2 separate regions of the Homo sapiens genome follow, and region 2 is linked to region 1. The links come from fine-mapping of genetic effects on gene expression. A gene starts in region 1. The other region holds a variant in brackets. All regions are shown on one strand. Distances are from middle to middle. Region 1 holds the start of BNIP3L (BCL2 interacting protein 3 like). Region 2 overlaps LOC124901868 (vegetative cell wall protein gp1).

The links.
Region 2: its variant is fine-mapped to the expression of BNIP3L in whole blood (TOPMed, PIP above 0.99).

The regions. Positions count from the first base shown.
Region 1 is chr8:26,381,449-26,384,361 of GRCh38, forward strand. BNIP3L (BCL2 interacting protein 3 like) reads left to right here and starts at 1,606. Exons shown (of 6, transcript NM_004331.3): 1 at 1,606-1,782. The coding sequence starts at 1,683. It also overlaps the pseudogene SDAD1P1. RefSeq lists enhancers at 83-1,282, 1,256-1,555 and a silencer at 1,766-2,355.
Region 2 is chr8:26,445,087-26,447,999 of GRCh38, forward strand. It overlaps LOC124901868 (vegetative cell wall protein gp1), which reads right to left. Exons shown (of 2, transcript XM_047422506.1): 2 at 2,110-2,913. Among named protein-coding and RNA genes, the nearest start is that of BNIP3L, 63 kb to the left of the region's middle. The variant A/C (reference allele first, on the strand shown) is at 1,295.

The sequences.
Region 1 (2,913 bases):
GGTCTCGCTTCATCAGATTCTGTAACTGCAGTCAGGTTGCTGGGCAGCTTGTTGTTGTTTCTGCTGGACATTCTGGCTGAAGACTGGCTTCGCGGCGAGCAGTTTTAATAAAACTCAGATGGCCAGCAGCCGCCAATCCCTACCAGCTGCGGCTTGAACTCCTGCTTCCGGGTATGACCGGAAACAGCACTCAATCTATTAATAGAGTTCATTTCTGACCAAAATCTTAAAAGAATTTGCAAAGGGATTTGACAAATCAATCCTTAAAAAAAACCTTTTAGCATGGACTTTTTCAAATATATTAAAAAATTAGAGGAATACTTTAATGTATTACATAGCTTCAATAATTACCAACACAAGGTCAATCTTGGACAAGTCCATTTTTAAGTTCATCTGAAGAGTAACTAGCCATTAACATCTGAAAAAGACAAAGGAAGAGAAACTTTAATAGTTATCTAACAGAGGTATTGCAGATAGCCCTGAAACAGACTCACATTTTTGTGGTCATTCAGAGAGTGACAAAGGTGCAATTTCAAATCAGTGTAGAAAGGATGGCTTAAAATTAATATTATTAGGTCAATGGGCTACAAAATTGGGAAGAATTGAAGTTAAATAATTTACAGCATATGGAAAATAAATTTCAGATGGATTAGAGCTCTAAATGTAAAGTTAAGCCTATAAGAAAATTAGAAAAAGTTATAAGGGAATTATAGATTAGTAATCTTGGTGTGACTGTCTCCCCAAGCCATGTAAGAATGATAAATCTGATTACATGAAAACCTTAAGCTTCTACAGAGTGAAAAAAACAAATTAAAAGACAAGTTAGAGACTGCGAGAAACATATGTCACTCATAAATCAGACCAAGGAGACTGGACGAAGACATGGAGATGTGAAGTAGGAGGTGTGCTCAGGAACATAGTTTAATGTCATCCACGTACAGGATAAACGGCTTCCCACGTCATGTCCCAGAAATCGATTAGTCGATGGGATTTGGGTGAGTACTTTCTTCTCTCTGTTTTCCTGAATTTTTCTTTTTTCTTTCTTCCCCTTTCTTCTTTCTCTTTTTTTCAGAATGATGGTGTGTTTGTAATCGACATTTTAAAAATTCTGTAACAATTAAATTTGGGGGCGGCCTTCCCTTGTTTCCCGTATGGAGTGTTGATGTTTCAGCAGCTTTATTTGGAGTTTACACGTGGAGGCACCTGGGTTTGGGGATTCCTTTGTGTCCCCAAGACACCTATTGCAGAAGTGAGTCCTAAGAGGTAGAAAACAGATGCGTGCGCAGGGCTGGGTGAAGCACTGTGGAGCCTGTGTGAGAGGAGGCACGGGCGCGAACACAGGAGCGCACTTCCTCATTCCGTTTCTCCTCATCCTCTCTCCCACTGCCACTGGCATCACTCATCCCATCCGGTCATCCCAAGTCACACGCAAGAGTTCGTTCCCGGCGCGCGCGTCAGCCTGACTCGAGCGTCTCCACGTCCGGGGCCCGCAGGGGAGCGCCCCTGCCCCGTCCGGTCGCTTGTTGTGTTGTCATCACGTGGCCTGGGCGGGCCCTGACGTCAGGGGCAGGGGAGGGACGGCGCAGGCGCAGAAAAGGGGGCGGCGGACTCGGCTTGTTGTGTTGCTGCCTGAGTGCCGGAGACGGTCCTGCTGCTGCCGCAGTCCTGCCAGCTGTCCGACAATGTCGTCCCACCTAGTCGAGCCGCCGCCGCCCCTGCACAACAACAACAACAACTGCGAGGAAAATGAGCAGTCTCTGCCCCCGCCGGCCGGCCTCAACAGTGAGTGCGGGGCCGAGGCTCTGTGAAGGGGATGGGGGAGGAGGAGCAGCCCCGGCCGCCGCCACCGGCGCGGCGCGGGAGGCGGGAGGAGAAGGCAGCTCATTGGCTCAGGCATGGGATGTCCAGGTGACTGACAGCTCCCGTCCCCTGTCAAGAGGAGGGGCGCCTGCCTTGCTCCGGGCCTCTCTGTTGCCTCCTGGGGTCTTGGGCCCGGGGCCGTTTGGGCTCGCGGTCCGGGAGCGGCGCGGGTAGCGCGGATCCCCCTGGTGCGGGGGGTGGTCCCCAGCAGCGGAGCCGGGCGGGGCGGGGCGGGGGCGGGCCTGGGGGGCGGGGAGGCCGGGTGGGCGGAGCGGGCCGCGGAGGGGACGTGGGCCGGGATGGGGACGTGCGGCGGGGACGCCGGGGGATGGACGCGCGGGAGCGGGGCGGGGCGGGCGGCTGCCGCGGGACGTGTCGGGGATCAGGTGTGCGGGGCTCGCGGGCGGGCAGCGTCTGGCGGGCGCGGGAGCCCCCCAGCGAGCATTCCTTTGTTGCCACACGTTTGTCAGGAAAATTCATTTGCTCGTCTAGGGTTGGCTTCAGTCACGTGTGGGGTGAGAGGCTGTGCCTTGCTTCTCCTTTTTCCTTTTTTATTTTTTTATTAGATTTCTCGAAGTTGCCCAAGTGATTTTTTTTTTTTTAAAGCGATGGGTTGTGCGCCCAGTAAAGCTGAGAGCAGCCTCCTGAACCACCCAAGATTGCACACGTCAGGGAGTCTGGGGCCATGCATTTAAAGAAACGGAATTAAAAACGCACTCGGGCAGTTGAAAGTTAACGGACGAGGCTGATAGACAACCCAGGCCAGGGTCTTTTCATAACATTCCGCTGCCCAGACATCTTGTCCTCAGATTGTTCCTAGTCGTGAGAACCGGGAGCCTTCTTGGAAGGGTTCTTGCCTAACCTTTCTTTAATTCAACTCTTGGGAAAGAGGTAATGGGAGCAGTGAGCATATGGCCAGATGAAGTCTTTTCAAAACCACTTGGATGCTTAAAGGTCATGCAGTATCTTTCGTAAGAGGGAGGTGCTTCCAGTGTGGCCTGAAGATTATTTTAGGGAAGAGAGTTTCAGCCCTCACCAGGTAGCGATGGAGTT
Region 2 (2,913 bases), 64 kb after region 1:
GAGATGAATCTGCCAAAGTGATGCTAGGCAGTGCGCTTTCTTTTTTATTTTTAAAATATTTTTTGCATGTATGTATGTATGTGAGACAGTCTCGCTCTGTCGTCCAGGCTGGAGTGCAGTGGCAAGATCTCGGCTCACTGCAACCTCTGCCTCCTGGGTTCAAGCAGTTCTCCTGCCTCAGTCCCCCGAGCTGTGATTACAGGCATGTGCCACCACACCCGGGTAATTTTTGTATTTTTGTTAGAGATGAGAATTCACCATGTTGGCCATGCTGGTCTCCTGACTTCAAGTGATCCGCCTGCCTCAGCCTCCCAAAGTGCTGGGATTACAGGCGTGAGCCACCATGTGCAGCCAGTAGTGCTCTTTCTTTACCTCTGCCCAAATGAGGACAAGGAGATGAAGCGTGGCTGAAAGCATCAGCCTCTTCCCAGCTGTCCTGATTGCATGGGCCGCTTGTCCACTGGACAGGTACTTTTCCTGCCGGGCCTGCTCGTGTGGTTTGGACAGATGCCCAACTGTCAGGCTCACTCTGTTCTGTTCAGGGAGCTGGCATTTGCTCCAGTTTCCTCACCTGCCCACAGGGCAGGTGTGTGTCTGTGCGCCCCAACCCCCTTGTCTTATGAGGCCCACTCTAATCCAAAAGGACCTCATCTTTACATAATCAGATCTGCTACGATACTATTTCCAAATAAGGCCATGTTCACAGATATATGAATGGTAAGAGCCAGTGGGCCAGGTTGCCCATGTGAGGGAGCCGGTCTCCGCACCTTGAATTTCTCTACTGTTCTGGCCTCCGGGGCCATGACATTGAGGATGGCTGGCCACTGGGCATTGCTCCTTGCACCATTTTCTCTGGGACTCCCTGATACATGTGAGGTTCTTCTTTCTCAGGCCTCTTTGAGGTGCAGGGACCCCCCCGCCCCCATTGCCTAGTACTCCAAACTGGCCTAGGTCTACCTCTCCCAGCCCAAATGTCCTGAGGTCCGTGACTGGATTATGACTTCATAAACACCCTTCCCCCACCCTCACCACCACCACTTCCAGCATCTGAGCTGGAAGACTGCCCGTGTCCTTCCAATCCACTTCCCTTCCCTGTTGTTCATCCTCACATTTCTCTAACCACAGGCCAGCAGAGCTAGAAAAAACCCTAGGACAACTAGTCCAGCAACGGCGAAACATTCATTTTAACCTTAGTTCACATGGTGCAGCCGCTACAGAAAACGGTATGCGAGTTCCTCAAAAAATGAAACATATGATCCAGCAGTTTCACTTCTGGGTTTCTGGGTATATTCCC[A/C]AAAAAACTGAAAGCAGAAACTTAAATAGCTGTTTGTACACCCACGCTTATAGCAGCATTAGTCACAATAGCCAAAAGGTAGAAGAAGCCCAAGTGTATATCAACAGATGCATGGAGAAACAAATGTGTATACATACAATGGGTTATTATTCAGCTATAAAAAAGGAATGAGGCCAGGATCAGTGGCTCACACCTGTTATCCCAGCATTTTGGGAGGCCAAGGTGGGCGGATAACCTGAGGTCAGGAGTTCAATACCGGCCTGGCCAACTTGGTGAAACCCCCGTCTCTACAAAAATGCAAAAATTAGCCGGGCATGATGGCAGGTACCTGTAATTCCAGCTACTTGGGAGGCTGAGGCAGAAGAATTGCTTGAACCACGGAGGCGGAGGTTGCAGTGAGCTGAGATCGCACCATTGCACTCCAGCCTGGTTGACAGAGCGAGACTCTGTCTCAAAAAAAAAAAAAAAAGGAATGAAATTCAGATACATGCTACAACATGGATCAACCTTGAAGACATCATACTAAGTAAAATAAGCCAGTCACAAAAGGATAAGCAGTATATGATTCCACTTATATGAGGTACCTAAAGTAGTCTAATTCAAAGACAGAAAGTATAATAGTGATTACCACGGGTTGGAGGGAAGGAGAAGGGGAGTTATTGTTTAATCATATAGAGTTTGGGAAGATGAAAAAGTCCTGGAGATGGACAGTGGTGATGGTTGTACAATAATGTGGATGTACTTAATGCCACTGAACGGCACACTTAAAATGGTTAACATGGTAAATTTTATGTTATGCATATTTTACAACAATAAACTAGTAAATACACAGGTCCTGTTTATTCTTTTTTTTTTTTTTTTTTTTTTTGACGAGTCTCACTCTGTTGCCCAGGCTGGAGTGAAGTGGCACAATCTCAGTTCACTGCAACCTCTGCCTCCCAGGTTCAACTGATTCTCTTGCCACAGCCTCCTGAGTAGCTGGTATTACAGGTGCCTGATACCACACCCAGCTAATTTTTACGTTTTTAGTGGAGGCGGGGTTACCCCATGTTGCCCAGGCTGGTCTCAAACTCCTGACGTCAAGTGATCTGCCCACCTCGGCCTCCCAAAGTGCTGGGATTACAGGCATGAGCCACCACGCCTGGCCATTAATTTCTTTATTCAAGTCTTTTACGTCACTTTTTGCTTCTGAGATGTGACCAAGATGGGAGTTAACCTTTCTAAAATCAATGTAGTATTTGCAATTTTCCTTTTTTGGGGAGACAGTTTTTACTTTAGGACCTAAGGGCTTGTGACTGTTATTTCTCCCTTTTAAAAATGAGTGTAAAACCTTTGTTTCGTTCATAATTTGCACCTTGACTTTCACTTTGTATAATGTTAGGTTTATCACCTCTGCTGTCTTTTCTGGTTTGTATTTCATTCACTGCTTCCTTCTGGAAATAACATAGTGCTCCTACTATGTGCCAGGCCTGTTCCAGGTACAGAGAATATAGCAGCAAACAAAACAGACCAGAGCTCTATCCTGGTGGAACTCACATTCAAGTTCGGGGGATGGTAAACCAAAATACATAGGAAAAATAAACTTTTGTATTATCTGCATGTTGGACCCTTTGTAAGTC